Linked DNA regions of Homo sapiens. The protein of the gene in region 3 purifies or fractionates together with the protein of the main gene of each other region. This does not show direct contact. Each region holds a gene or a part of one and is shown on either strand. Other genes may lie near its edges. The genes, in order: DNPEP, CHML, RAB11B and WDR44.

Region 1 (9,216 bases), on a different chromosome or scaffold from region 3:
AGCAGACTGAGCGGGTAGACAATGGCCCTCTCTCACAACCTGCTGGGGCTTTAGGCAGCTCCCCCGACCCCAAACATACCACCTCTGCTGGTGGTTATGTGCTGCCTGGGGCGCCCCGGCTCCTCACCTGCAGGGCACAGAAGCAGCTGTGCAGATTGTCCAGCCGAGGAGCAAAGATGAACTCATCATAGGCACCACCCAAGACCTAGAGAGGTAAGACAGTCAGCCCGACCTTCAACCCTCCACCCCCACTCACCTTTCTTTTGCTCCCAAGGGTCTCCTTGGTTTCTTGCGCAACCTCTCCCTGACCCCTGGCTTAGGGCACTATTTTGTTTTTTCTTTTTTTTGAGATGAAGGTTCGCTCTTGTCGCCCAGTCTGAAGTGCAATGGCTCGATCTCGGCTCACTGCAACTTCCGCCTCCCGGGTTCAAAGGATTCTCGTGCCTCAGCCTCCTGAGTAGCTGGGATTACAGGCATGCACCACCAGGCCCAGCTAATTTTTGTATTTTTATTAGAGACAGGGTTTCACCATGGTGGTCAGGCTAGTCTCGAACTCCTGACCTCATGTGATTCCCCCCGCCTCAGCCTCCCAAAGTGCTGGGATTCCTTGCTAGGCAGGACCAAGCAGAGATTGGAGAAGGGGGCTGGGTTGGTGCTGAGGAACAAAAGGGTGGAGGCCAATAGCTCTTGACCTCTTCCTGTGGGTCAAGAAAAGGAAGGGCTGAATTGTCATCAAAAAGGCCAAAGAAGTAAACAGAGGAAACCAGCCAAAAAACAGAAACTTAGTACGTGTTCAAGCAGGACACAGCATCCAAAGATTTAGCAATCTCTGACCATCAGCAACCGGGAGACAGAGAACAGATGGCCACATCCAGGCCTCTTTCCCTAAGCAGTTCAGTGTCAGTGTGGGTCAAAGCAGACAGGGCCCACCTGTAGAAGAAACTCTTTGGGAATCTGTAAAAAGGGCCAATTCCCAGATAGTCCTAGTGGGCAGGTCTGGGGTAGGGAACTTGTCTTTTTGAGAACCACCGCCCTAGAAGCAGTGGGGGATGTGTCTACTGGGAAAAACGGGGATGAGAGTTACTGAGGGCTTGGTGGAGGTGATGGGTGCTTCAGCAGGACGGGCTAGGGGTGGCCAGGATCCTGGAGGCCCTTCACCCACAGGTTCCTACAGCCAGTCCTCACCGCAGGCTGGGTGTCTGCAAGGCAGAGCTCCATCTCCACTATGTCCTTGGGGCTCAGCCCCAGATGGGCACAGAGCAGGGACATGAGGACCGAATGGTGCCGCTCATCCTGAAGAGCAGAAAGATGCTGGGAAGAGTCCATTCCTCCTCTCCTCCCCACTTCTCAGGGGACTCTGCCGCCCTCCCCATGATCAGGAGACTCTCTTACCACAGCATTGAGAGGCCCTGGCTCAGGAGTCCCCTTCTCCAGCTCCTCCTGGATGGCTGTGGCAAGAATGGGGACTCTGTGGGGAGACGTGGGTTGTGGGGGGATTGCGAGGAGGGCACAGCTGAGTGCGGCATCCATAAGTTCAGGTGCCTCCTGATGGGCAACTGCCTCTGCCCTTCAATTCCCAGCCCACTCCCCAAATCACAAGGCTGTGAGGACCCTTAGAAATTAACTGGGTCCCAAGAGTAAAATGTGACCTAATGGCTACCATTAGGTAATAATCACCTGGTACCATTCTCCATCCCTCCCAGCCACCGCAGCCCTGCCCCAGTCTCACAGATGCATCTCTGTGTTGGGCCCAAAGTTCTCGTTGATATTTCGCTGCAGATGGATGGCCAGGTGTGGGATGCGAAGAATGGGCCGCTCCACGTGCACCAGCTGCTGCTCCAGCCGACCTGAGGTAGGGCACTGCAGCCAGCCAGGCCAGGTCAGCCCAGGGTGCCTCCTACCCCAGTGGTCAGTCTTTACTTCACTCAGACTAAGCAGGGTGGTCCTCTGACCAGACTGCCCCCACCCCTCTTCCCCACGGGTACCCTGAGGAGTGTGGCAGTCAGTCTTCTGAGGAGGCTCCGCCATCCCCAACCTCGGTTCCCACCTTGACAATGACGCGTCCAGCCAGAGTCAGGTCACGGTCAAACCAGGTGCTCCAGATCCCACCACCATAGGTCTCCACACCGACTTGCTGGAAGCCCACCTGGCTGCGGCGAGACCGACGTTTCACCTGAGTGTAAAGATGGAGAAGTCAGAGAAGGCTTCATGACGATATGTGGAGATGAGACTTTGGCTACTCATAAGTAACAGACAGCGAATATTAGTGTCACATGAAAGGCTCAAGGTGTGAAGGAAGGGGCCAACAAGTTTACCTTCTCCCTTACTCCAGGGGATAGAGGCCCCAGTTTGTACCTCCTAGTTCTCTTTTGCCCTGTACTCCCTCTGACATCTCCTCCCACCCCAACACCGTCCGAGTTCCTTACCCGGAGGCAGGGGCTGTCCGTGTGGGCCCCGATGAGGCTGAAGCCATTGCCAGGAACGTACTGGCCCCCTACAGCAAAAGCTATGATGGTGGAGGAGTTCCTGGTCATGAAGTACTGAGGAGAAGGGGAGGAAAGACAGGGGTGTGAGTTGCATTACTCAGCTGGCACACAGGGCTTGGAGACCAGCCTAGGGACCTGCCTTTCCACCCCCACCCCACCCCCAGTACCTTGCTCTCGGGCTTAATATTCCATTTCTCAGTCTCCTTGAGTTCACTGAAGCCAGCCTGGAGAAGGCGGTTGCGGCATTCAGCCACAGCTGTGGGAAAAGCACCCTCTCACAGCGATGGAAGCTGGTGAAGGGCGCATCAGCCTCCACCCTCCTCCCTTGCCCTGGCCACCGCTTACCATGGAAAGGAGAGGGACTCCGGTTCACGAACTTGAGGAGTTCCTTAGCCGCAGTCTGCACCGCCTCTTTGCGGGCCTTACCGTTCATGGCCACCTAGGGGAGGGGGATGCTCAGACTTTTACAAGGTCTGGGACCCCTGACCTTTCACCCAGGTTCCGAGGATTCTCCCATCCCCACCCCCAGAAGTGACCACTCTAAGGCACAGACCTCTGCTTCCGCCCGTCCCCACCGAGAGACCCAAACCCAGGGCTGAAACTCCGTTGAAAGCTTCAGCCCGCCGGCCCAGGATCATGAGCCAGGCCCGCCCCTTAATCCGAACTTTAGCCCGACTCCCTAAGTCCCGCCCCCATGTCCCTGCCCAGCTAGGAAATCCTGTTCTGCTCCCAAACTCCGGGATCCCAAGCGGGCCCCATACTCTGAGGCGGCCTGCATCACGTGCGCGTACCCAGCCCGGAGCCAAAGCCCTGTACCCCAAGGAGCACCCTGACTCCTCTCTCGCACCCACCTAGTCTCTCGCAGGACTCCCCCTTCCAGTCCCGGGAAAGTCGTCAGGTCACCCTCCGCGGGGCTTTCGGTTTCGCTTTGGGTCAGGCGGCCCCACTGCAGCACCGCGCTAAGCTTGGGCCCCGGAGGGCGCCGGACCCGGTCTGGGATCGAAATTCAAGTGGGGCCGTCGGGAGCCACTTACCTGCATGGCCCCGCGCGTGGGGCTGTGTCCGCTCATCTGGCCTCCGGGCTCGGCCCGCCCCCACCGCGCCGCCTGCCCCGCCCCTCACTAGCTTTGCAGGTCCCCCGCGTGCCCCTTCAGGCCGCGCCGCACTCGTAGGCCTTCATCACGCTTCCCCGGCCGCGCCGCCCCGCCCCATGTTTGGCCTCCCCGCCCACCTCTCCCCGCCCCTCGGCATCCGCCCCGCCCACCTCGGTCAGCCCCGCCCCTCGGCGGGCTTACCCTGTCCGCTCCGCCCCTCGCTGGGCACCACCACCCGCCTTGCCCCGCCCTTGCCCCGCCCCTAGCTTGGCCGCACCGCCCGCCCCGCCCCGCCCCTCGCCAGGAAGCACCGCCCGCCCTGCCCCTCGCAGGGCTGCACCGCCCGCCCCGCCCCTCGTCAAGCTTCCTCGTCCGCCCCGCCTCTCGCCAGGCTGCACCGCCCTCCCCGCTTTGTCCCGCCCCTCACCAGGTTTCCCCCATCCGCTCCGGCCCTCGCTGTACCCCACTACTCGCCCTGCCCCCGCCCTTGCTCCGCCCCGCCCTTCGTCAGGCCTCCTTGCGCTCCCCGCCCCTTGTCAGGCCGTGCCGCCCACCCCGCCCCGCTCCTCGCCAGGCTGCTCCACCCGCCCCGCCGCTCGTCACGCTTCCTCGTCCGCCCCGCCCCTCGCTAGGCTGCACCGCCCGCCCCGCTTCCGCCCCATCCCTCTCCAGGCCGCGCCTCCGCCTCCGGCCCGCCCTCGTCTCCGCCCCTGCGGGGGCTGCTCGTTAGGCCCCGCCCTGCACCCCCGTCACCCACGCCGCGCGACCCGCAGCCGCCGCCAGGGCCCTCTGCTGCCGCGGAGGTGCTAGGACAGCCGCGGACGGCCCGCCTCCCCGTGCCCCGGGCCTCGAGGCCAATAAAAAGCTCGCCCCTCCAGCTCACCGGGTCCGACGGGTACGGTACAAAGTGCTGTCTCTCGCCACAGCCACCTTTGTGACAATAAAAGCAATAAGGCTAATGTCCATGGGGCGCTCACGGTGAGCTTTAGCTTTATGATAAAGATTGGCCTGTTACCTCGTTTAATCTTCACAACTGCCCCATCAACTATGTACTCTTACTGTCCCCAGTTTATGCATGAACAGAGAAAGCTGAGATACGGAGACTAGTGATCCGTCGAGGTAATAAACGGCACAGGTGGGGTTTGAACTCCATCAGTTTGATTGCAGAGGCCTGGAACAACCCTACAGCCTTCTCTCAGATCTTTTCTGGACCTTTTTCTATGCGCTTTGGTAAGTGTTATGTTACACGGGAGGTCCACAAGGGACACAGAAGTTGACTTGCCCAAGATCACATAGCTGTTTGGGTGGATCTGGGATTTGACTCTGATATCTGTGCCCTTTCCATTTGTTAAAAACAACAGAAAAACAAATTCCACATTATTGGCAGTTCCAGTATTCCCATGTCAGGAGTAGTGAGTAGCACGTTTAAACCCCATGCACCTTCCTAGCTGCAGGAACTGATCAGGACTCTTGGTGGCCTCTAGATCCAAAACAGGGCCCAGCTACCAGGGGTTCAAACAAAATTCCAGAGATCACAGGTTTATGGAGCAACCTGCCGTTTATATACCTGGGGTGGGGAGTGACAGGGTGGGATGGGGAGAGGCTGGAAAGGTCCTGCAGCCCTCACTTCAAACTAGTAGATATGGCAGGGGAGTTTTCAAGAATTCACCCACTAGGTGCTGGCTTAAATTCATGGCATTCCCTAACCGTTTGTTGAAATACCATTATGGGCCTGGCGCAGTGGCTCACGCCTGTAATCCCAGCACTTTGGGAGGCCGAGGCGGGTAGATCACTTGAGGTCAGGAGTTCGTGACCAGTCTGACCAACATGGTGAAACCCCGTCTCTACAAAAAATACAAAAATTAGCCGGGTGTAGTGGCACGTGCCTGTAATCCCAGCAGCTACTTGGGAGGCTGAGGCAAGAGAATCGCTTGAACCCGGGAGGTGGAGGTTGCAGTGAGCTGAGATCGTGCCACTGCACTCCAGCCTGGGCGACAGAGTGAGATTCTGTCTCAATAAATAAATAAATAAAATTATGTATAAAGCTCAATGCTGAGCAGGACATGGAGAGAGCATTCTTGTCCTCTACCTCCTGGGGAGGGGACACATTCAAGGAGGACAGTGAAAGGGCCGAAACAAGGCTACAATGTATAAGGGAAGGAGACAACCTGAATAAGGAACCACCTTTAATGTTCTTTCTGATCACAGAAAAGAGTACATGCTTGAGTAAGAGATTCAAACATCACCAAAATGCATAACTTAGAAAGTGAGCCGGGAGTGGTGGCTCACGCCTGTCATCCCAGCATTTTGGGAGGGAAATACAGAAGTGTTCCTATTCAAATCAGAAGTGAGACATTGATGAGCTATTACTGCTGCTAGACAATGTGGAGCTGTAGTCAGAGCCAGTACCACAAAACAAAATTAACAATTCTATATGTGCAAAAGTAAAATTGGTCATTATTTATAGATTATATGATTATCTAGAATCCCCAAGAAAATAAACGATCAAGCTATTATTAGAACTGGTAGGAAGGGTAGCCTAATTTAAAAAACACTGACTTTCTTGTACAATAATCACCTAGAAAATATAAAAGTAAAAAGGTTCTTATTGACCATTTTTGGTTTGGGTAAAAAAGAAAAAAGTAAAAGGGCTATATTTACAAGAGCAAGAAATATTGTTAAATTTCTAGTCATGAACATATGAGACACCTAATCTCACTTTAAACAGGAAAATGCAAGTTAAAAATGAGATAACAGTTGGGCGTGGTGGCTCATGCCTGTAATCCCAGCACTTTGGGAGGCAAAGGCGGGTGGATCACGAGGTCAGGAGTTTGAGACTAGCCTGGCTAAAAATACAAAAAATTAGCTGGACATGGTGGTGTGCACTTGTAATCCCAGCTACTCAGGAGACTGAGGCAGGAGAACTGCTTGAACCCGGGAGGCAGAGGTTGCAGTGAGCCGAGATCGTGCCATTGCACTCCAGCCCAGGCAACAAGTGCGAGACTCCAACTCAAAAAAAAAATTAATAAATAATAAAAATGAGATACTTTTTCTTTTTATTGAGCAGATTAACAAAAATGGAAAAGATGGGTAATATCAAGTGTTGGAGAAGGCTTGGGGTAATGCAAGCATTTTCTGGAGGCTAAAGCAACTCCATCTGGGAAGCTAATCTGCCATGTTGACTTTTCAACAACCTGTTCCAGGAATGACTCTAAGTTTTCTACTTTACCTACTATTACCATAAATCCTGCGCTTAGACAGATTCACATAGCATTCATGACTTTGCCTGAGGGGTCAACTTCAATTGTTTGACACATTGTTTCCCTATGGTATGTAAGCCCTGGGTTTGCAGGGTAATCCACCATTTCATCTCTGAAACTATGGCCTCTATTCATAAGTCCCTATGAAATGTTTCTTTCTGAGAGACTGTATATGTCAGCCTCTTTCGTCGGCTTTTCAGCTTCCCTGAACTTTGGGGGTATGTTTGCACAGACCTTTATACCCAAATTTCTGTGGTGTAAATGTTCCCCGTGGCCGATTTCAAGCTGTCGAGATGATGTCACTGAAGGGAGTTGGGAAGAGCTGTGCGGAAGCATGCCATTATGTAGATTTCCACCATGCAGACACAATGGATAGAAATAACATCAACAGCATAGATTTAAGAAGGCAGTAAAATGTTTGGAAAGGTGATGGATTTTTGGTTTTCATTATCTGTAATATAATTTATTTAATTGTAAGTGTATATAATTTAGTTTTTTTTAATGATTGCTGTGTTTAACAACAAGCTCACCAAATTCCTGGAAATTTGACAATCAGTTCTCATGAGCTTGTCCAAGTTGGCCCCAGCACACTATTCCACCCGTACTGTACATCTTTGCTACTAAATGTGTGATCTGTTGACCAGCAATGTCAATAACATCTGGGAGCTTTTTAGAAATGCAGAACCTCAGGGCTTACCCTAGAGTTATAGAATCAGCATCTGCATGTTAACAAGATTCCTAGATGATTTGAATGCTTGAGACACAGTATTTTAAAGTGCTGTGTAGCAGTTCATAAAAAAAAAAAAAAGGTCAGTCTTTAGGAATTGTTACAGAAAAGAATTCCAAATATACTGTTGAGTGAAAAAAAAAAGCAATTTCTAGAATGTAAGGTGAGGGCCTTTAGATAAAACTCACACAATGAGCTAAATTTATATTTCTAGATGTTATATAAATACATATGTAAATGGATAGAAACAGGTTTGGAAGGATAATGGTCACCTCTGGGTAAGGGAATGGTGATGGATTTGGAGTTCAGGTGGCAAAGTCAAGGGATGACTAGGGATCAAGAAAGAAAAAGTTTCTGAGAATCGTTCTTGCCCTTGGCCTTCTGAGAAAATCTTCCCTGGAAGATCTCGGCTGATGTTTACAATGCTACCATTATTCATTCATCTTTTTGGTTTAACACATATTAAAGTGCAAATACTTTTGCGTGAACATAGAAGTCAGTTACATACACTTCAGTGTGAGTTTATAAGATACATATGTCTTTTTTTTTTTTTTTTATTGAGACGGAGTCTCGCTCTGTTGCCCAAGCTAGAGGGCAGTGGCAACCATCTCAGCTCACTGCAATCTCCGCCTCCTGGGTTCAAGTGATTCTCCTGCCTCAGCCTCCCATGTAGCTGGGATTATAGGTGCCCTCTACCACACCCAGTTAAATTTTTTTTTTTGAGATGGAGTCTCACTCTGTTGTCCAGGCTGGAGTGCAGTGGCGCTATTTTGGCTTACTGCAACCTTCATTTCCTGGGTTCCAGAGATTCTCCTGCCTCAGCCTCCTGAGTAGCTGGGATTACAAGCACGCATCACCATGCCTGGCTCATTTTTTGTATTTTTAGTAGAGACAGGGTTTCACCATGTTGGCCAGGCTGGTCTTGAACTCCTGACCTCAGGTGATCCACCCACCTTGGCCTCCCAAAGTGCTGGGATTACACGTGTGAACCACCGCGTCCAGCCTAGAACTACAAACTATTGATCCTACCTTTCCCTATTCCTCACTCCTGTCTTCATGACTCTCCTACCTAGGATGAGCCATACATTCCACTGTTGTGCTCACTCCCTCGCACACACCTTCAAGTTCCTGCTCTAGATTTGCGGACTTGCCTGGCAAAACCCCAACCCTGACTGCAACCAGCTCCTCCCCTGCTCCAACCTGTGTGGCTGGAGAAACATCCAAGCCGCGCTGCCTGGTCTCACTTTAAACCAGTGGTGTCCGGTCTTTTGGCTTCCCTGGGCCACATTGGAAGAAGTAGAATAGTCTTGGGCCACAAATAAAATACACGAACCCTAACAATAACTGATGAGCTAAAAACCTTTCAAAAAAATCTCATAATGTTTTAAGAAAGTTTACAAATATGTGTTGGGCTGCATTCAAAGCTGTCCTGGGCTGCATGTGGTCCATAGGTGGTGGGTTGGACAAGCTTACTTTTTTTTTTAGTTTTTTTGAGACAGAGTCTTGCTCTGTTGCCCAGGCTGGAGTGCAGTGGCATGATCTCAGTTCACCACAACCTCTGCCTCCTGGGTTCAAGCGATTCTTCTGCCTCAGCCTCTCAAGTAGCTGTGATTACAAGCATGAGCCACCATGCCTGGCTAATTTCTGTA
Region 2 (8,168 bases), on a different chromosome or scaffold from region 3:
GTGATGCCCTGTGTGGCCAGAGGTAGAAAGGCCAAGGTGCTGAAGAGCATACTCACCTGAAAGTCTTTAGGCTAAAGCAACAATACTGCTAAACTTTCTAATATTCATCATTGCACAGTTTTGAGCTCTGGTTTTCACTACTGTTAAACCTACTGAAATATAAATCAGTACAAGCTGTACCTGTCTAGCCCAAGATGACTAATAATCCTGGATACTGGAAAAACAAGCCATTCAATTGGAACTTAGATTAAATTGCATAGGGCACACACCTTTAGTTTAACTAAAATGGCAATCCTAACAGTCCTGTCTAGTCAAAGCCTCTGTCTCAAAAATATCAAGGATTCCACTCATTTTTGGCATTCCCTAAGAAGCCAGGAACTAAGTACAGAATGCAGCAGTTGCCTGGCCCACTCAAGTATAAATATAAGTATGTCTGAATTACTTATTCTGCTTCTTCCAGCAGGGTGTGAAGATGGAGACTGAATCTATGATGGTATCTGAAGAGGTGTAACCATAGTACATGCTGCTTCTTGGCTTAGAAAGACAGGGCTCAGGGTAGGAGTAGGAGCAGAAGACACAATCAATAAGCGCTAAGATCAGGCACGTTCTAACCTACAGATATCAAAGGGGTCATCAAAATGCAAAGCAAGTAGGATGGCCTTACAGAGCATTAAGCTGAATTACCCAATAATAGAGATGAGAGAACTGATAGCTGGAGAGATTAAGTGACTTGAGAAAGCCCGCACAATGCATGAGTCGCAGGATAAGGAACAGGATCCACTCTTGTGCCATCAGACCAATGGTCTTTCCAACAGATAGGGCAAGCCTCTCCAAAAGCCTCTGCATCAAGAAGCTACTTCCCTCATTTTTAACTTCCTCCCCTTCAATACTCCACTGTTAGGTAGTTCTTGCTCAGGGATAACTCAGGAAGTGCCCTCCTTTTCTTCATCCTTAACCTGGATCTAGAAGCACAAACTCCGGAATTTACTCCAGGCAAAGAAATCATCTTCGCTAAAAACTTTTTAAACTCTATAGTAACTTCACTACTAACTTGCCCCCCAGGGCTTAAGTCTCGGAATCTCTTATCTCAGGGTTTCCACCTCTACATTAAAAACAGGGAGAAAGTCATGGTTGAAAGCACTAAATGCCCTGAAAAATAGGGCAGCCCTCAGGCAAAAATCTAAGTGAACTTAGAAAATCACTGGGCTGGGACCCTAGGAGGGATGGTGAAGAAGAAAAACAGGAAGGGAGAAGTGACCAGGAGACACAGGAGGGTGGGATCAGCAGAGGAAAGAGGTGAGGAAGAGGGTGGATGACAGCTAGCACTTATAAAGAACTCAGTACACCCTTGTGTTCAAACTCCCGGGCACGAAAACAGAATTTTCCAGCACAGAAAAGGCACTTCAAGGAAAAAAGAACTTTGATGTCTGTGAACAAACACCTGTTGACTACCCTGGAGAACACTACTGATGATACTTTAGGCTTGGGCTTGAATAACCTTCTTAGCATTGCCGAAGAAACTGCCTGATAGGTATTTTACAATTAATATAAGGAGTGTAATCCCATAGTCGTCCATACCACAGCCTACATACACTTGCAGTCCCCTCCCTAAATTTCAAATGTTTGTTCAAATGAAATTATCAGATTAAAGCTTATGAGGGGCGGGGAGGAAAATATTATAACCTCTGAAGCAATCAAATAAAATCTATTTTCTTATTTCCTTCAAAACGCCAAAAAATGAATCATTACAAATATAATATTTGGGTTTGTCATAGCATAGAGGTTACTGAATAAGAAAATATTTTTGATAATTCTACAAAGATTTTTGTTCTCCCAAACCTACCAAGATTAAAGCAATAAAGTATCAATGGATTTCAGGATTTAAAAAAGGAACTTTAAGCCTTGAGAAATACACATTTCTATTTCAAATCTCCCTACAAATGAAATTCCTGAGGCACACAAAAAAATAATTTCCTTTCTACGCTTCCTTCAATGATTTGCTGAGTTGTTGATCATCCTTCAAAACATCATGTCTCAGTGAAACTTAAATCTTCCATAATAAGAGTACTGTCGAAATACATCTTCAACAATGAAGTTCTACTTTAATGAAATCTACCGATTGCAGAGCTAATTACAGTATTTGTTCACCTGAGATGGTATTGGCTGAGCCATTTGTAATCTCACCCAAGATTCTGGTGTGCTGGAACCCATCTATAAGACGGAAAATAGTAAAAACAGCTTACAGGGCACATGCCAATTTGCATTCTGAGGACCTGAATGAAACTGTCTCATTCCCTAGAAAGCATTCAAAGGTTTACAAGTACTAATGAGAATTTTTTTTTACACATTGTTATTTTGGTTTTCTACTCTCATTTTAGGAAACAAATAGTAGTACATGAATCTAATCTCATCACTCCCTCCAACTTTCACGAGTTAATCACTTTTTTTCTTGAATCTCTTGACTCTACAGGCCCTCGTCTCTTTCCTCAAAGTGTAAAAAGCCGTGGTTTCGTGCCTTGTTGAGTGATCTTAGGAGGTAAAAACAAATAAGAAAGGAGGCGGGCCGGGGTTTGGGGTCAACGTGGGGGGCAGATGAGAGACCACAGGAATGGAGTCCTGGACAGCGTGGGGCGGGAGGGGACGGAGGAAGAGGAAGGCACCCGCCATGCGGCTGGGGTCGGGCAGCGTTGAGGAGGCGAGCGGGGAGCGGGGCGGTGTAGGGCGGGGGGCGCGGGGCCGAGCGGGAAGCGGTGCGGGGCGGGCTGGGGGGCGGACGCACGGAGCGGGCAGCGGGGTGGGGAGTGGAAGTTTGCAGAGGGGAGGCTGCCTTCTCCCAGTCCAACTCACCGAAGAGGCTGCCGCTAAACCCGTCCCACACGCAGCCCACGGTGTCCCACACCCAGCCGTTCCTCAGGCAGGACACGAAGGTAAAGGTGACCCCGAAGAGGGACACCAGCAGGTCGCTGAGGCTGATGTTGACCAGGAGGAGGTGAGTGGGAGTGCGGAGCCGCTGGAACTTGTAGTAGAGGACGAGCACCAGCAGGTTGTTGCCGACGCCCAGCAGCCCAATGGAGCCCAGCAGCAGCGCCAGGCGCTCGTAGGTGCCGGGGCTGAAGAGGGGCGCGGGGCTCAGTGTCCCCGCCGGCGCCGGCCCCTCAGCGCCCGCGGCCCCGCCGCCGTCCCAGTAGCCGTGGCCGCCGCTGCGGTTCCCCGAGTACATGGCCCGGCGCCGGCGCGCCTGGCGGGCGGAGGCGCTCAGCTTGCGGCGGGGCTCGCGGCGCGCTCCGCACTGGGTGGGGTTGGGGCTCCGCCGCCTGCTCTAGCCATTGTGCACTGAGGGGCCCGCGCTACCGCGCGCCGGGCCCGCCCTCTTCCCGCCCCTTCCGCCCGGCGCACCCCCCGTGGCCCCGCCCCTCCCCGCGGCCTGTCCTCGTCGCTCCGCTGCTCCCGGCGCGTCCTCTTAGCCCCGCCCCCCCGCGGGCGCGTCCTCGCGGCTAGCTCGCCCCGCCCCCACTGGCTGGGCACCTTCCGCTGGTCGGCGTGGACGCGCGTCGCGGGATAGCCTGGGGGCCAGGGCCGCAGGGTAGCCTCGATGGCTCTTCACACCCCCACCTCCCTGCACCCACCTTGAAAGCTTCGTGTCCACTCACCCATTCATGCACTCACTTATACATTCATTTATTCCTAAGTATTTATGAGCGCCTGCGCCCACCACGTGCTGGCAAGAATTGGGTTTCTCCCCTTCCTGGGAAGCTGTAATAACCCACAACCAGCCTACGAAGCCCATCCCGCGTCATACACTCAATGTAAACAAAAGCAAAGAAAACATTGAAGAGCTCGGGGTAGTCTTACCGGAAAACTGAGAAGAAAAACAACAAATTGATAGACAGGTGCCTGCCTAACTACCTGACTGCTAGAGGACACATGTCCCAGGGCTGATACAAGAGCCTGCCACCCTTGGAGAGTCTGGGATGAAAACTCTCTGAAAATGGCATTCCAATGGAACTGACTTTAAGCCCTGGGCTGGACCCCAAGGCCTTCCAATACCGTCCTTCCTGTGCTTGAAAGCGTGGGTAGATCTTTCCGGTCACTGAGGCCTGCTAAAGTCCTTCACAGGCAGTGAAAGATTCAACCTAAATCTAGCAGGTATAGGAGGCAGGTGCTATATTTAGAACAGCACACATTTCCCATTGGGCCTCTTCTCCTGTAGTGATGAGAATATAGTACAAGTCAAATATAGGTTGTGAACGTCATCACACTCTGCAAGAGCTGCTTCTGCCTTTGTGGTTGCACAATCCCTAAGGAGGCCCTACAAGAAGATCACAGTCCCCAGCCACACCTGCAGCCTGTCCTGGACACTGGTGACGAACACAGGGTTTGTGCAAGCTAAAGAAACTGCTCTCCATACGGGCGTGCCTCACCTCTGTTTGAAAGATCAGTAGGGAATGACTAGCTTGGATCAATCCACATTCTGAATTCCCTGGAGAGAGGATCTAATAGGCTGGCAGCAGCTCTCCACCCTGGTGCACTGAGCAATAGCTAAGGGGCAGTGTGCTCTGCCTTTGACACCTTGATTTTCCTTCAAGGCTTCTGCTCTGGACTCGCCATCTGTGAGACTTCCTACCCACCCACCCCTTAAAAAACACACACACACTTTTAATTGTTAATTTTAGATTTGTACAACCACTGAACAAAACATAACTATTTAACAAGTTCTATATGTTTAATGTCGAAAGTGTTTTCTGTGTCTAGTCTACAGTAAGTTCTCAATAAATAGTAATTTGAATGAATGAATAAAGAACTCGCTATATTTTTTCCTATTCATTCTTCATTGCTGAGTCATTGCCCTTATAAAGCTCACATTCCAGTCGTGTTGGGAGAACAAACAAAAATTAGATAAATACGTAGGGTGTCAGCCACTGACAAATGCCATGAAGAAATAGGGGTCAGGCGTGGTGGCTCATTCCTGTAACCCCAGCACTTTGGGAGGCCGAGGCAGTAGGATTTCTTAAGCCCAGGAGTTCAAGACCAGCCTGGGCAACAAAGTGAGAACTGCCCCCTAACTCTTCAAAAAATAGAAAATTAGCCAGGCAAGATGGTACATGTCTGTGGTCCCAGCTACTCAGGAGGTTGAGCCAGGAGCTATGGGAGATGGGGCAAGGAGTTTGTAAGAGTTAAAGAAAGAGGAAAGAAACACTAATAGCAGCTCAACAGTCAGACAGTGTTATTTGGAAGAATAAACCTAAGAGGGGCTTCTGGCCGATTTCGGTCAGGAGCACTCTCTTACAGACTAAGAGTATTTAAGGATTTTAGAGTGAGAGAGCTTATCACAGGCGTGGAATGTTTCTGTTTGGAGAAGAAGTTTATTGCCAAGTTGGAATGTCTCTGTCGGAGGGGAGGTTATCTCGGGGCTCGCATGTCTCTGGTCAGGGAGGGGTTTATCTTAGGGTTGGAATGTTTCTGGTCGGAGATGTCATTTGTGGTGTATGGTCATGCTGACCTTAGCCATTAGGCTGATGCTGTTTGGATTTAGGTGGTTTTTGATCAAGGGGAACTTTAAAATGGCAGTGCTTGTCCATGATGGTGATGCACCTGCTCTGTCAAGGTTGTTATTTAGACAAGGTGGTTATGGGCAGGAGTACTGTATTGGTATGTTGGAGGAACAATAAGGAAGCAAGAATGAGAATCGGGAAATGCAGCCAGTCAGGTGGGTGTGCAGTGAATGGCCAGAATATGCAGGACCTTGGCCATTTCAATAAAAGGACTTTGGCTTTTACTCAATCAGAGTAAAGTCCAGGGCAATGCCTACTAGCAGTGAATGCAAAGGAGGAGTAAGAGGCCTTTGACAAATGCTTAAGCATTTTTGACACAGTAATTTTACAATACTATGAACCATTAAGGACATTTATTGAGCTTGACAGAAACAGGCAATGATAAGGATATATGTTTCTTTTTTAATTTTAGAATTATGTAATGACAGGATAATGGCAGAACACTACAATCTTTTATTAAAAAAAAAAACAAAAAACAAACAAATGAAAAACACCAGCATGATATAGTTTGGATGTTTGTCCCCACCCAAATCTCATGTTGAAATATAATCCCCAATATTAGAGGTGGGTCCTAGTGGTAGGTGTTTTGGTCATAGGGGGCGGATCCCTCATGAATGGCCTGGGCCATCCCCTTTGTGATAAGTGAGCTCTGGTCATCTAAAAGTGTGTGGCAACTCCGCCATCCCACTCTCTCTCTCTCTCTCTCCCTATCTGGTTGTCGCCATGTGAGATGCCTGCTCTCACTTTGCCTTCCACCATGAGTAAAAGCTCCCTGAGGCCTCCCCAGAAGCTGAGTAGATGCCAACACCATGCTTCCTGTACAGCCTGCAGAACTGTGAGCCAATTAAATCGCTTTTCTTTATAAATTACCCAGTCTCAGGTATTTACAGCAGTGCAAGAACAGCCTAATACACAGCATAAGGACAAACATGTAGACCAATGGAATAGAATAGAGAGCCAAGATATAAACTCTTACATATATGGTCCATTGATTTTTGACAAGGATGCCAAGGCCATTCAATGGGGAAAGGAGGAAAGGACAGTCTTTTCAACAAATGATGCTGGGAAAACTGCATATCCATGTGCAAATGAATGAAGTTGGAGCCTTACATTATATCATATATAAAAATTAACTCAAAATTGATTGGAGACCTATATGTAAAAGCTAAAACTATAAAACTTTTAGAAGAAAACTTCTTGGGTATGACACCAAAAGCACAGGCAACAGGAGAAAAATAGCTAAATTGGACTTTATCAAAATTAAAAACTGTTATGCATCAAAGGGCACTATCAAAAGAGTGAAAAGACAGCACAGCAAATGGGAGAAATACTTGCAAGTCATATATCTGATAAGGCATCAATATTATAAAGACCCCCTACAACTCAACAACAAAAAACTCCACACAACCCAATTCAGAAATAGGCAAAGGATCTGAGTAGACATTACTCCAAAAATATACTAATGGCCTAAAAGCACATGGAAGGAAACTTACTGTGATTAGTCATTAGGGAAATGCAAATCAAAGCCACAATGACATACCACTTCACACCTACTAGAAGGGCTATCATCAAAAAACAAAACAAAACACAAAAACAAGTGTTGGTTTTTGTGTGGAGATGTGTAGAAATTAGAACCCTGTCGTACTGCTGATGGGAATGTGAAATGGTGTGGCTCCTGTGGAAGACAATTTGGTAGTTCCACAAAAAGTTAAACATAGAATTATTGTGAGCTCATTCCTGTAATCCCAGTGCTTTGGGAAGCTTAAGCAGGATGATCACTTGAGGCCAAGAGTACAATGACCAGCCTGGGCAACATAGTAAGACCCCATCTCTTCAGAAAAAAATAAAAAATTAGCTGGGTGTGGTGGCACATACCTGTAGTCTCACCCAACTATTCAGGAGGCTGAGGCAGAAGGATCCCTTGAGCCCAGGAGTTTGAGGTTGCAGTGAGCTGTGATCGTGTCACTGCGCTCCACCCTGGGCAAGAGAGTGAGACCCTGTCTCAAAACAAAAAAAATTGCCATATGATCTAGCAATCCTATTCCTAGGTATATACACAAAAGAATTGAAAGCAGGGACTCAAACAGGTATTTGTATACTTATGTTCATAATAGGATTATTCAAAATAGCCAAAAAATAGAAACAACTCAAATGCCCATCAACAGATGAATGATACATGGAATGTGATATATACATACAATGGAATATTATACAGCCATATTTTAAAAGAAATGAAATTCTAGTACATGCTACAACATGGATGAACCTTGAAAACATTACGATAAGGGAAATAAGCCAAACACAAAAGGACAAATATTATATGATCCCAATGATATGAGGTACCTATAACAGGCAAATTCACAGAGACAGAAAGTAGAATGGTGGTTACCAGAAGCTGAGAAGAGGGAAGAATAAGAAGTTAGTGTTTAATGGGTAGAGAGTTTCTGTTTAAGATGACGAAAAAATTCTGGAGACGAATAGTAGTAATGGTTGCACAAGATTGTAAATGTACACAATGCCACTGAATGGTATACTTAAAAATGGTTAGAAAGGAAAATTTTATGTTATGTATATTTTACCACTTTTTTTTTTAAAAAAAGAAAAAAGCATGTGCAA
Region 3 (9,096 bases):
GCCCTGGGGGCCCAGACCCTAATGCTCAGGCAGACTGAGAGACTCTTCAGGGGAATGGTGCCCCCATTCCGGCAGAGCCTGGCGGAGCCAAGCAGTGCCCCCATCCCTCCCCTGGAAGCTGGTCCTAAGCATCCTAGGCCCCAGGGACCGGCACTGGGGGCCACTCTTGTCTCAGCTCTTCTATGGGGAGGTGTACAGAGCCAGGGCACTGGAGGGACCCCCATTCTAAATGGGGAAGATGGTATGTTTGGGTCCCCAAACAGCAACTGGAACAGCAGGCCCACTGTGAGGTCTGCCCAGGCTTGAGGGCTGGGAGCTGCCTCAGGAGCCTCAGCACAGAAAGGGAAGCACCAGGCAGGCCCCTTCCCTGGGGACAGGGGCCACCTTGTCCTTGGGCAGGGGAGGGGTGGACAAGACCCAGAGGACAGGGCCTGGGGCAGCTGCGGCCCGTTTCCCCCACGACCCATGTCCTCCAGGGCCAGGTGAGCCCTGATTGGCCAGGGCCTCTAGGGTAGGGGAAGGGCTCTGAGAGGACCTCAGTGGCCCTTGGGGACACAGCTGCAACCATGGAGTACCGAGTCCATCAGAAAAGAAATCTGGGGTCCCACGGCAATTAGTGGCAGGCTATGAAAATGGCCCATGGCTAAAGGAGAAAATGTTAGGAGGATAAATGTGAGGCTCTATAATTAGGTACAAATCAACAGTGTCATTCCTGGGGGAAGGAAAGAACATTCACGAAGGAAAACAAATGGCACACGGGGCATCACCCGGGGGATCTGCTGGCCTTGGCCGCTGAAGTCAAGGGAGCCAGTGCGTGATGTGGCCACCAAAAAAAAAAAAAAAAATGCAGAGGCCAGGCACGGTGGCTCATGCCTGTAATCCCAGCACTTTGGGAGGCCGAGACAGGTGGATCACCTGAGGTCAGGAGTTCAAGATCAGCTGGCCAACATGGTGAAACCCCGTATCTACTAAAATACAAAAATTAGCCGGGTGTGGTGGGTGCTTGTAATCCCAGCTACTCGGGAGGCTGAGGCAGGAGAATCGTTTGAACCCGGGAGACGGAGGCTGCAGTGAGCCGAGATTGCGCCACTGCACTCCAGGCTGGGTGACTAGAGTAAAATTCTGTCTCAAAAAAAAAAAAAAAAAAAAAAGAAAAGAAAAAGGAAAAGAAAAATATTGAAAGAGAATAGAGGAGGTCCTCTGATGAGGCACAGCTGTGAAGGTGAGACGGCAGATGACCAGTTTGGGAAAAGCTGAACTTGTGGGTTAGATTTTTGCTACCAACTAGCTTGAGAAGGTCAGCAGGGCACCTGCTAGACTCAGTAAAAGGAGGCCAGTGTGGGGAGGGCAGCAGGGCAGGCACCGCCCCCCCCCACCCCACACCGCCTGCCCGCCAAATGCCAGATGCCGCAGAAGCTAAATCAGTGTTTCCAGGAAGCAGTCTCTGCAGACAAGTCCCGGGAACCACACAGCCTCTCCATTGCTCCTGACCCAGTAACTGTTCTGCTGGGAACGCACTTCAAGGAAATAATCTAAAGGGCAAAACCATGACTTGAGCAAGCACTCGGAGCTGGGTCATTTAACACAGCAAAAGGGCAAAAATAACAAGCAGGGGATAACCACAGAAACCTGGATGGGGCATGTGGGGAGCAACACCCCTGCCCTGGCAGTGCCACGTCTGGGTGGGTGCCCAGCCAGGACCTGGGAGCAGCTGCCTCACGGTGGGCTGAGTGGAGATGGCACCCGATCAGCAGGACCCAAAGTTTAGTCCCCCTGTCTCCAGACGGCCCCTTAGAATCCCAGTCTCCAAAACCCTTCCAAAGCTTCCTCCTGCCACGAGGGGCGAGACCTTGGGCCGGGCACCTGCTGACCACAGAGCCTCACCCACCAGTGACATTATCAACCTGTGTGCAGCTGCCAGAGCCCTCAGTGCCACAGGACGACTCTAGGCCCTTGTAGAGGCACTTCCTCTCCCTCCCCCCGGAAGGCTTTCGCCACACGGACAGCCCAGGTGGGGAGACCTCTGCCTCATTCCCCACAATCAGAAGACGCTGGATGAGACCAGACACAAGGCCCAGCTAGGCCTGGTGCAAGCCACAGAGCACACTCGGAGGAACGGCTCAGCGAGGTGAGGATACCAACAGCTGATGTGCGACGCAGGCCCTCATAGAGCAGGCCGCAGGGTGAAGGCACCTTGGATCCAGGGGTTAGCCCTCAAGGGCTGCCATTGTCAGCCAGGGAGCCCAGCAACCAGGGCAGACCACTAGGCCAAAGTGTAGCTGGGCACAGAAGGCTCAGCTGAGAAACAAGGGACTCCGGCTTCCTCCAGCTGTCCCTAAATGGGCAATGGCTGCCTGATCTACCTAGGCCTTATGTGATGCTCCTAGAGCCCCCTCAGTCCCTCGGGCGGGGAAGACCCTCCAGCAGGCTGGCTGGGGCCCCGGCCATCAGTGCGCACGTGTTGGAAGAAGTTGGTCCAACAACCCAAAGTCCCAGATGCTGGCCACAAGCCCCCTAAGACACGCTTCCTAAGTGGTAAGGCCTACAGGTGGCCTGGGCTCAATCGGGTTCCAACACTTATAAACTGTGTCTTTGTCACTCTGGGCCTCAGTTTCCCAACGTGTAAAAAGAGAGGCTGGTTAGTATCAACCTCAAAGGGCTGCAGTGAGGATTTTAGTTAATTCGGGTAAAGTGCTCAGAAAAGTGCAAGTACTGGCTTAGCACTGTTGAGAGTTCTGAGTGAAGAGATGGAATTCTTGCTGCACACACGGGTGCCTTTCCACTCAATCCCAGCTTTGCACCCCAATCCAAGGCTCCCACCACCACACACCTCACCCCCAGGCCCTCATCTCGGCCCAGCCCCCATTGCCTGCCCCGCCTCTCCCGGGCCCCACCCCCAAACACGCTGCCCCAATCAGGACAAGCCTCGTGAGAGCCCCGCCTCCGTTTGCCCAGGCCCAACCCACCTATTGGTCACGCCCATCACGCCTTAGCCCCGCCCCTAAAAACCCCGCCCCCATCCCGAATCACGCTTTCAGCCCAGCCCGGCCCGCCAAATCTTGGGAAAGCTCCACCCCCTGCGGAGGCCCCGCCCTAACAGCCTCTCCCACCGCTCCGGGCCCCACCCCCTCTAGGCTCTGGCCCCGCCCCGGCGCGTCCTAGGTCCCCCAGGTCTCTCCGGGCCTCCGGCTCCGTATAGCCGCGCATCCTAGCCCGAAGCTGATGCTGCCCGGTCGGCTCCGGCCTTCCCGGCTGCCTGACCCGCCGGGCCCCAAGCCCCGGGCTCCGGCCTGGGCCCAGCGGCCTGGAGCGCGGCCTTGGCCCGTCTGCCCGCCGCCTCGCCGCCACGACTTCGCCCGTCTGTGCCCCACCGGCCGCACCTTTGAATAGGTAGTCGTACTCGTCGTCCCGGGTCCCCATTGTCCTGGCGCTTCCGGCGGGATCGGCGACTCCGCAGCCCCACCACAAACACCCGACGGGGGCGGAGCCGGCGCCGCGCAGAGCGGCGGTTGAATGGCCTATCAGCGGCGAGTGGAGTAGCGACGGGCACCCAGCGAAGCCAATCAGAGATGGAAGTAGTGCTCTGAGGGTGGGCGCCGCTTGGTACCACCCTCCTCGCCCTCGGTGTCCTGGAGAAAGGCGGAAGGAATGCGGACCTTTTTGAAGTGACGGACGCGCCAGCCTATCAGGGGCGAGCTCAAGAGGGCGGGGCGGAAGACTGCAGGAATGAAATGGATTGACAGACCAAATAACTAATGAGAGGCTTGATTGAGAACCTACCCGACTATCAGAGGACCTGTCCGGGAAGAGAAATGGGGCTACGTCCAGGTAATGCTACGATGCTTAACGTCCCGATGACGTCATAGGTCAGCGCGCGCTGCCCTGGTCGCCCCCCAAGCCCATAAATGACCATTTCCGGGGACCTCAGCGCTGGGTCCCCTTTCTCGGTTGCAGTCTCCATCTCTATATTGGGACTCACTGGGTTATCCTTCTGTGCCTCAGTTTCCTCCTCTGTAAACTGAAGAAACCCGTCTCATGGAATCTTTTGAAAATAACCAGATCAGCCAGGCGCGGTGGCTCACGCCTGTAATTCCAGGACTTTGGGAGGCCGAGGCTGGCGGATCACGAGGTCAGGAGTTCGAGACCAGCCTGACCAACATGGTGAAACCCCGTTTCTACTAAAAATACAAAAATTAGTCGGGCGTGGTCGCTGGTGCCTGTAAACCCAGCTACTCAGGAGGTTGAGGCAGGAGAATCGCTTGAACCTGGGAGGTGGAGGTTGCAGTGAGCCGAGATTGCACCAAGTGTGAATCAACCGTCCACTTTCTGCTATTCTTTGTTAAATAAATACTTTTAAATCCTTACTGGATACCAATGCTCTCCAACAGGACCTCCTACCACTACCCCTCTTTTGTCCTATATTTTGCCACATAGGTAAAATATAAAAATAGGTAATATAGAAAATAAAACACATACTGCTGTATTGTCAGGTAGTGATAGGATTTATCACTACCTGACAATACAGTATGTGTTTGTTTTATATATTTAGGGTGTACAGCGTGTGTTTTGATACACATGTACCCAGTGAAATAATAATTATGACAGTTTTTTTTTTTTTTTTTGAGACGGAGTTTTGCTGTCGTTGCCCAGGCTGAAGTGCAATGGTGTGCTCTCGGCTCACTGCAGCCTCTGCCTCCCGGGTTCAAGCGATTCTCATGCCTCAGCCTCCCGAATAGCTGGGATTACAGGCATGCACCACCATGCTTGGCTAATTTTTTTGTATTTTTAGTAGAGACGGGGTTTCTCCATGTTGGTCAGGCTGATCTCGAACTCCTGACCTCAGGTGATTCGCCCACCTTGGCCTCCCAAAGTGCTGGGATTACAGGCATTTTCACCACACATGGCCAATTATGAGAGTTAAGCAATTAACCTATCCATTGCCTTCCATAATTAACTGTGTGTGTAGTGAGAGTATCTAAAATGTACTTTCTTGGCAAATTTTCAATATACTATGCAAAATTATTAACACAAAGTATACGTTACTTTTTGTTTGTTTGTTTTGGCTGGCTGCGGTGGCTTATGCCTAAAAACATGCCCTTTGAGGAGGCTGAGGTGGGAGGATCACTTGAGGCCAGGAGCTAGAGACCAGCCTAGGCAACATGTCAAAACCCAGTCTCTCAAAAAAAAAAAAAAAAAAAGAAAAAAAGGAAAAAAAAGAGAAAAGGAAAAAAAAGAAAAGAACAACAACAAAAATTAGCCAGATGTGGTGCATCATGCCAGGGTCCCAGATACTTGGGAGGCCAAGGCGGGAGGATCATTCGAGCCTGGGAAATCGAGGCTGCAGTGAGCCATGATCACCCCACTGCACTCCAGCTTGGGTAACAGAGCAAGACCCTGTCTCAAAAAAAAAAAAGCCTTGCTTTCCTGACCCATTGATCTGTTTGTTTTTTGTCCTCTGTCAGCAGCATATCAGCCTGATGACATCAGGGACTGTATCTGTCCCCATCATTGCTGTAAGTTCCCCACTGCTGAATAAATACGTTTATTTATTCAGTGGTGAATAATCTAAGCCTAGAGTCAATGTACTAGTTATTAGAGCAGATGCCATTATCGCCTCTTGGATCTCATTCCCAGGGTGTTCATTGGGCATCTGTCAAAAAAACAAAATTACAACACATTTAGTTTAAAGATCTTAATTGATTTTATTTGCAATTCTACAATCGGGCAACACTTCATTTCACAAAATGAAACTAATTTTCCCATGAGCTGAGCAGGTAGGTTGGTTTTACAGGCAGAAAAAGGGCCAAGTAAAGCACAAACAGAAAATAAAACGTGGAGGTCAGGTGCAGTGGCTCATGCCTGTAATCCCAGCACTTTGGAGGCCGAGGCAGGCAGATCACCCGAGGTCAGGAGTTCGAGACCAGCTTGACCAACATGATAATGATGATGAAACCCTATCTCTACTAACAATACAAAAATATTAGCCGGGCGCGGTGGCAGGTGCCTGTAATCCCAGCTACTCAGGAGGTTGAGGCAGGAGAATCACTTGAACCAGGGAGGCGGAGGTTGCAGTGAGCGAAGATCACACCATTGCACTCCAGCCTGGGAGAGCAGAGCAAAACTCCGACTCAAAAAAAAAGAAAAAAAGAAAAGAAAACTTGGATTGGTCATTTTAAAGTTTCCTTTTGGAGTCTGAGTCTTGCTCTGTCACCCAGGCTGGAGTGCAGTGGTGCGATCATAGCTCACTGCAACCTCAACTTCCTGGGATCAAGCAATCTTCCCACCTCAGCCTCCTGAGGAGCTAGGATCACAGGTGTGTGCCACCATGCCCAGCTAATTTTTTTTTTCCAGAGACAGGGTCTTGCCTTGTTGGCCAGGCTGGATTTGAACTCCTGAACTCAAGCAATCCTCCTGCCTTGGCCTCCCAAAGTGCTGGGATTACAGGCATGAGCCACCACCGCACTCAGCCCAAAGTTACTTTTCTTGTAAAGGTTAAAGCAGAGAGGACATCCTTATCATGATGGCTAAAACTGACCTGGTGGGAGACTTGGCTATCCCATCTCTCTCTCTCCTGATTTTGTAGAAGGTCAGATAAACAACTTAGTTTCTTTTTGATCACGTAAAACTTTAGCATGAGTGACTCCATTTTGGTTTAGTTTGTTGGGCCTGGTGTAGGAAGTCAGTCCAAAGTAATAGCCTCCTATAAGTTTTGTATAACACATCCTGTGTCCAGATTGGTGGGTTCTTGGTCTTGCTGACTCCAAGAATGAAGCCACAGACCCTCCGGTGAGTGTTACGGTTCTGAAAGATGGTGTGTCCAGAGTTTGTTCCTTCTGATATTCAGACATGTCTAGAGTTTCTTGCTTCTGGTGGGCTTTTGGTCTCGCTGACTTCAGGAGTGAAACTGCAGACCTTTGCGGTGAGTGTTACAGCTCATAAAGGCAGTGCGCACCCAAAGAGTGAGCAGCAGCAGGATTTACTGGGAAGAGTGAAAGAACAAAGTTTCCACAGCATGGAAGGGGACCCAAGCACGTTGCCGCTGCTGGCTGCGGTGTCCTGCTTTTATTCCCTTATTTGGCCCCACCTACATCCTGCTGATTGGTCCATTTTACAGAGAGCTGATTGGTCCACTTTACAGAGTGCTGATTGGTCCGTTTTACAGAGTGCTGATTGGTCCGTTTTGACAGAGTGCTGATTGGTGCATTTACAAACCTTTAGCTAGACACAGAGTGCTGATTGGTGCATTTACAATCCTTTAGCTAGACAGGAAAGTTCTCTAAGTCCCCTACGCGATTAGTTAGACACAGAGCGCTGATTGGTGCATTTACAAACCTTTAGCTAGACACAGAGCGCTGATTGGTGCATTTGCAATCCTTTAGCTAGACAGAAAAGTTCTCCAAGTCCCTACTCAACCAAGAAGCCCAGCCGGCTTCACCTCTCAATCACCCCTCTAAACAGAACACCCCAACTGCTGTTGGGAATTTGGCCGATGACCACTCTAGCTACTTCCTGCTGGAAGAAGGGGCCCTGCAATTGTAGTGTCCTCCAGAGGGGAACTCTTTAGGCCAGTGGAAGGGCCAGTGGGTCGGTCCAGGGGTCCTCAGTAGAAGTTGTTAGTTGAACTCATTTGGGGTTCCATTTTTAAGACCATCTGTAGCTTGATGGCCTCGATTCTAGAAGAAACAAATTTGACAAGAAGGTTAAAAATGCAGGGCCCAAAGGTGAGTAAGAGCAAGATGGCTGCCACAGGACCTAGGGGAGAAGCCATGTTGCCCAACTCCAGAGGTTGGTATTAGAGTTCGAAAGGCATTGTCTGATTTCAGAAGCCTTTTCCTGTAAATGCCAGGTGGCATCTCGTGCTATCCCTGACTGTTTAGTGTAAAAACAACACTCTTCCCCTAAGAAGGTGCAGAGTCCTCCTTTCTCAGCAGTGAGGAGGTCTAGGCCTCAGTGGTTTTGGAGAGTTGCTGCTGCCAAAGAGTATATTTGGGATTGTAGAGTAAGGATAGATTTTGTTATTTCTTACAAACTGTCTGAGAAATCCTTTGAAGGTGTATGGTAGTAGAATAATGAAGTGGATAAACTGGCTATTCCGGTTCCTGTAGCAGTAGCCATTCCTAACCCTATAAGTAGGGATATTAGTTGTATGGCCCTGCGCTGATAGACTTGAGCTTTGAGGGGCACAGATACGGTCTGATTTCCATAAGATTAGAAGTTAGGATAATACATGTTACACTGTTAACTTTTTTAGCAAACTTTACTTTTGTTGAAAACCTTGTAAGTTTGGGATTTCAATTATTCTTTGCTATTAGTAAGACCTTGTTCAGTCCATATTAACTTAGAATTGGTATAGATGGCTGCTTCCTGATTCTGTAAGTACTTTAAGATTTGGCTGAGTGGAAACAACTGGCATGTTTGAGCAGACCAATTATTAGGCAATTTTCCTAACTCTGCATCTACAAGAGTTTCCTTATCACTTACTGAATACCCATTGTGTCTTTTTCCCTTAATCGCCTGGGAGGAACCATCTATCATCCTGTCCTGAAGGGAGTTCCTCCTAGATCTGGTCAGACCTTTGTATGGTAATTAATTAAGATTTAGATCTCCTGTTAGGAAACCTGCTGGGTTAAGGATTTTTGATAGGAAGGCTACAGGTTGTCAGTGGCCTCAGTGCTTTCCGGCTATGCCCTTGTTTACACTGACAACAAGGTGGTATTGGAGTGTTATAAGGTTACAGAGAAGACCTTCAATTATCAATTATAGGTTTTAAATTTACGCTAGGGTACACTTTTTTTTTTTTACTACTTCTATCTCCTTTTCTCTTTGACTTCTTCTTTGTCTCTGTCTCTTCCTCTCTGTCTCCTTCTCTTTGTCTCTCTGTTTCTTCCTCTCTTCTCTCTTTCTCTGACTTCCTGTCTCTTTCTCTCTTTCCTTTCTGCTGGTCTTTCCCTGCCTCTGCTAGCCACTTATGCTGCTGTTCTCCCCTCTTCTTCCCATTTTTGATGGCTTCGGCTGTGTAAGACTGCCACCTCCTTGGGTTTTTGCACTGTGTGCAATAACTCCATGGTTTCCTTGTGGTATTTAATGGGGGTTCCC
Region 4 (4,602 bases), on a different chromosome or scaffold from region 3:
AACCAAGTTAGAATGATTAAACCTTTACTAAATGCCTGTTTAACTGCTGTCTGTTTTCTTTTTCTTTCCTTCTCAGAATCACATCCAGCTTCTGTCTTCTAACTTAAGTCATTTACGTTTTTTCTTTTTTTTTTTAACTTATGAATGAATGAATGAATGAATGACATGGTGTCGCTCTGTTGCCCTGGCTAGAGTGCAGTGGTACAATCATAGCTCACTGCAACGTTGAACTCCTGTGCTCAAGCAATCTTCCTGCCTCAGCATCCCGAGTAGCTAGGACTACACGTACTACCATGCCTGGCTAATTTTTTTTTTTTTTTTCTTTTTGCTAGCAATGAGTTCTCGTTATGTTGCCCAGGCTGGTCTCGAACTTCTAGCCTCAAAAAGGTTAGTCCTACTTTGGCCAAAGTACTGGGATTACAGGCATGAGACATCATACCTGGCCTTTTTTTCTTTTCTTTTCTTTTTTCCCCAGTGCTACCTTTTTACATTCCATATACTTCCCCTGCATATTCCACAGGAAATTCTAGCTTTTAAAACAATTTGAGGAAAAGTAAAAAGTACAGGGTTTTTTTTAACTTCTCAAAAATATACCACATTAACAAGGTTCAGTTAACTAACTGGGTCCTTTTTTAAGAGGCACAAATTTTAGTGGATTGTACTCAGATTTGTGTTTGTCATTTTGTACCCATGTAGGTGTAGTCTAAGAATAAGCTCTCTTAAACCCAAAATGTGGGATCACAAAATATATTCAATTCCCCTCTCTCTTTGTTCCTGACGTGTTTGGCAATTCAAGCCTCAATTTTCCTTATGTGTAAAATAATGATGATAACCTAGTTTATAGAGTTTCAATAAGAATTAGATATGACATGTATAGGCTGGGCATGGTGGCTCATGCCTGTAACCCCAACATTTTGGGAGGCCAAGGCAGGAGGATCACTTGAGACCAGGAGTTTGAGACCAGCCTGGACAACATAGCAAGACCCTGTCTTCACAAAAAATTAAATAATTAGTCGGGCACAGTGGCGCATGCCTGTAGGGAGGCTGAGGTGGAAGGATCCTTTGAGCCCAGGAGTATGAGGTTACAAGAAAGCTATGATGGTGCCACTGCATTCCAGCCTGTGCAACAGAGTGAGACTCTATCTAAAATATATATATATATATATATATATATATATATATATATACTTGTATGTGTAAAAGTGCCTAGCAAAATGCCTGGCATGTAGTAGGCATTATTGTTATCATTTTCATTATTATTGTGTCTTACAAAGCATTTTATATGTATGGTGAATTATTTTCTTCTCTATCCTTTCTCATATTCCTAAGTTCTTTGCTGCTGCTACTACTGCACAGCACTGCTGTGAGATATGCCAAAAGGGTGGTAAAGGAATGTTCAAAGGCTTAGGATATGTTTTTAGCACATCTAAGTGAAACCATTTTGTGTGACTCATCCTGTCCACAACTTTCCAATTAAAGTTTGGATTATTTTCTTCTTTTTTAAATCTCAAATTAAAATCTCAGTTTTCACCTATGTATAATAGAGTTAGTTAACACTGAATTTTTTTATTAAGTGCTTTTATGCAACTGGCAAATGTAAGAGGTAAGCATTTATGCCATTCAGCATAGTTATATAGCTTTTCAGTAAGGACCATATGGCAAAAGGTGCTGTCAGCATTCACACAGCAAACGTGTGTACTTCATTTCATGGCAGTTTCAGTATGTCTGCTATACAATAAACCTTACTGGCAACCTCGCTAGACACCCCTGTTAGCAACAGACTTGCCCAGCTGATCCGATTCTGCCAGCACTCCAGTCCTGGGGCTGAATGACACACTAGCTTCTTGCCATGCAATGAAGCATTAGATGACTTAGATGCCTAGGCTGCCTAGGAATAGGTCCAAGCATCCAGGCCCCAAGAGACTGTAATATCCTCAAGCCAGGGAAAGACCAGCTAAGACAAGGTAAGTGAAAGTGAGCCTCAGAGCAGAGGAGAGATTCAGCAGAATGAAAGAATTACAGGAGCCAGCCAGAAAAGGAGACTGAAAAGGTGGGGAGATGATCTTCTCCCCTGAAGCTGGAGGGTCATGGGCATGTGATAATTGTGGCAGCAGGCTTCATATTCCTTTAAAAATCAACTTAAAACTATTTTTTATACTTTTAAGGTATTATGAAGACAGATAACACAGAAGTTCTTCTCTCTGCTGACTTCACTGGAGCAATCAAAGTGTTTGTTAATAAAAGAAAAAATGTATCTTAATTTGAAATGGCATTTAAAATAAACATATCAGTAAGTTTCTATATGTATCAAAACTGAAAAAATAGTGTTCCAGGCTAACATACTTTTTTAATTTTTATTGAAAGTTGTTCAAATATAATATATTTTTTGAGAGGCAGTGTTAATGATCTAGGAAACCCTGGGCTGATAGAGTAGAAAGGAATATGGCTAGAATAACATTGCCAAACATTAGGCTTTATGTTTTGTTATGTTTGTGTTTTCGTTGTATAATTATGAACATGCACAAGTTTCTGCATGAAAAGATATTAATATATTAATCACATGTATGTGCCTTTTGGTTACATGCATTAAATCTAACAGAGTTAAATTATTTCAGTGGCTCTTTTGGCCTCTTACTAGGGGGGATAGTCTTGTTTCTAGCTTAAACAATTTTTTTTTTGCACAAAATTTCATTTTTAATAAAAGTGGTATCTTTTGACTGAGTTATTGTTTTGAAAATGGTATATAGGTTTCCAGTAGGTCAACAACCATATGTAAATGGTTTTTATAAATTTCTCAATTTGGGGACAAGATTTTTTTGTGGTCTAAATTGTGGGCTTAAGATTCTTTTCTTTATATGTGTACATATAATTTTTTTTTCTTTGCCACACTGGAGCACAATGTTTCTATGTAAAGAATTATTTTCATTCTTTATCCATGAGCACCAGGCTTTGCTCACTTAAAAAAAAATTAAGCCACATTAAGGAGTGAGTCTTCTTTTTTACAATAATGTAAAAATTAAACTGTTTACATTTTTTTAAAGCATTGTAGTTTTTAAAAATTAAGCTGTTTTGTTTTGTGTTGTTGAATTTGAAAGCCTTTGTAAATATCAATATAATGTACCAATGAAATAACATCTGGGGCAATGAAACCCTGATCATGTTGTTGATGGTTAGCATATGTTTCTGAAAATTAAATATGTATTATTAAAAGTTGGTCTCCAACACTTGTTTAAACATGACTTTATTTTTAATTGACTTCAGTAAATCAAGGAATGCAAGAAAAATAAACTCTTGTTTTAATCATTTAAATTTTAGCAACAGAAGACCAGATTTTAGATCCCTAAATTATAATGCATTAGTTACATGCCTTAAAATTTTTTTAATTCTAGCTTTAAATTGAACAGTGCTAAGAATTCATCTATATGCTTATATGTTCTTTACTGCATTTGTTTTCAGCATGTAAGTGAGAAGTTGGGGAGCCACGGACATATCCTTGTTGATTAGCACGGTCTTAGAGTGTTCTAGGCTTTCTAGTAAATTACATATTATTTGTTGCTTTCTTCTTGCCAGTGCTGTGCTTTCTCCCTCTACCCTTCCCCCTCCCCTCTCCTCATCTCTCTGGTTGCTTTGGCTTCCTCACTCTCCTGTACTCTCCCTGACTGAATTGTTATGCCATTGGCTTTCTAAAAACCAGGCACAGTTTCTTTAATCTCAAGGTCTGGGTGGCATTGTGATTGATCCAGTGTTTCTTTTTAAAACTTGATGTCTTCAGCTCTTTGAGGCAGCTTGGCTTTCACTAACTTCTGCCTGAGAACTTGTAGTCGGCTGTGGTGTTGATTGTTTTAACTGCAGATAATCAGGGTATTATTATATGACTATCTCGTGATAGGTTTTATGTGGTTACTTGACCAAAAAGACAAAACGAGTTGGGATGCAAGCTTAAAAGCATAATACTGGCCGGGCGTGGTGGCTCATGCCTATAACCCCAGCACTTTGGGAGGCCAAGATCACCTGAGGTCAGGAGTTCAAGACCAGCCTGGCCAACATGGTGAAACCCCATCTCTACTAAGAATACAAAAAATTAGCTGGGCGTGGTGGCGGGCACCTGTAATCCCAGCTACTCAGGAGGCTGAGGCAGGATAATCGCTTGGACCCAGGAGGCGGAGGTTGCGATGAGCCAAGATCGCACCATTGCACTCCAGCCTGGGCAACAAGAGCAAAACTCTGTCTCAAAAAAAAAAAAGCATAATACTGACACTTGTTATTGCTATATGAATACACTGAATTTAAAAGGTAGCATCAAAATATATAGAAAAAAAGAACACTATTTCTCTTTAAAATGAGTTTTAGATATTCTCTATAACGAGTGATATGGTATTATTAAAAAAAAAAAGATCACAGGTTCTAGAGTCAGGTAAACTTGGATTTGCTTCCTTCCCGTTAGCACATTCCTTGGGCAAGTTATTTATCCTACATTACTACTACTTCCTTATCTGTAATATGGGAATACCTAACTTAAATTGCAAAGATTTGCTAAGAAATCATGTATGTGTAAAGCTTGGTGCCTAACCAGTAGGTATACTCAACAGATGTACATTTCTT

Evidence for each region.
Region 1: the proteins of RAB11B (region 3) and DNPEP purify together in Homo sapiens (affinity purification with mass spectrometry; 4 studies listed by BioGRID and IntAct, with this or other methods). This does not show direct contact.
Region 2: the proteins of RAB11B (region 3) and CHML purify together in Homo sapiens (affinity purification with mass spectrometry; 4 studies listed by BioGRID and IntAct, with this or other methods). This does not show direct contact.
Region 4: the proteins of RAB11B (region 3) and WDR44 purify together in Homo sapiens (affinity purification with mass spectrometry; 4 studies listed by BioGRID and IntAct, with this or other methods). This does not show direct contact.

Annotation. Positions count from the first base shown.
Region 1 is NC_000002.12:219,384,239-219,393,454, forward strand, and holds the start of DNPEP (aspartyl aminopeptidase), read right to left. Parts: upstream 3,675-9,216; 5' UTR 3,557-3,674; coding exon 3,521-3,556; exon of another isoform or gene 3,338-3,520; intron 3,125-3,337; exon of another isoform or gene 3,040-3,124; intron 2,926-3,039; coding exon 2,832-2,925; intron 2,743-2,831; coding exon 2,654-2,742; intron 2,541-2,653; coding exon 2,427-2,540; intron 2,174-2,426; coding exon 2,048-2,173; intron 1,861-2,047; coding exon 1,730-1,860; intron 1,469-1,729; coding exon 1,393-1,468; intron 1,294-1,392; coding exon 1,186-1,293; intron 206-1,185; coding exon 128-205; intron 1-127.
Region 2 is NC_000001.11:241,637,035-241,645,202, forward strand, and holds the start of CHML (rab proteins geranylgeranyltransferase component A 2), read right to left. Parts: upstream 3,336-8,168; 5' UTR 3,221-3,335; coding exon of another isoform or gene 2,848-3,220; intron 1-2,847. Other genes in the region: OPN3 (opsin-3), read right to left, coding at 2,848-3,220. UniProt on the Homo sapiens protein: Substrate-binding subunit (component A) of the Rab geranylgeranyltransferase (GGTase) complex. Binds unprenylated Rab proteins and presents the substrate peptide to the catalytic component B.
Region 3 is NC_000019.10:8,384,741-8,393,836, reverse strand, and holds the start of RAB11B (ras-related protein Rab-11B), read right to left. Parts: upstream 3,478-9,096; 5' UTR 3,421-3,477; coding exon 3,381-3,420; exon of another isoform or gene 3,146-3,380; intron 1-3,145. UniProt on the Homo sapiens protein: The small GTPases Rab are key regulators of intracellular membrane trafficking, from the formation of transport vesicles to their fusion with membranes.
Region 4 is NC_000023.11:118,446,728-118,451,329, forward strand, and holds the end of WDR44 (WD repeat-containing protein 44), read left to right. Parts: intron 1-2,165; coding exon 2,166-2,260; 3' UTR 2,261-3,234; downstream 3,235-4,602. UniProt on the Homo sapiens protein: Downstream effector for Rab11 which regulates Rab11 intracellular membrane trafficking functions such as endocytic recycling, intracellular ciliogenesis and protein export.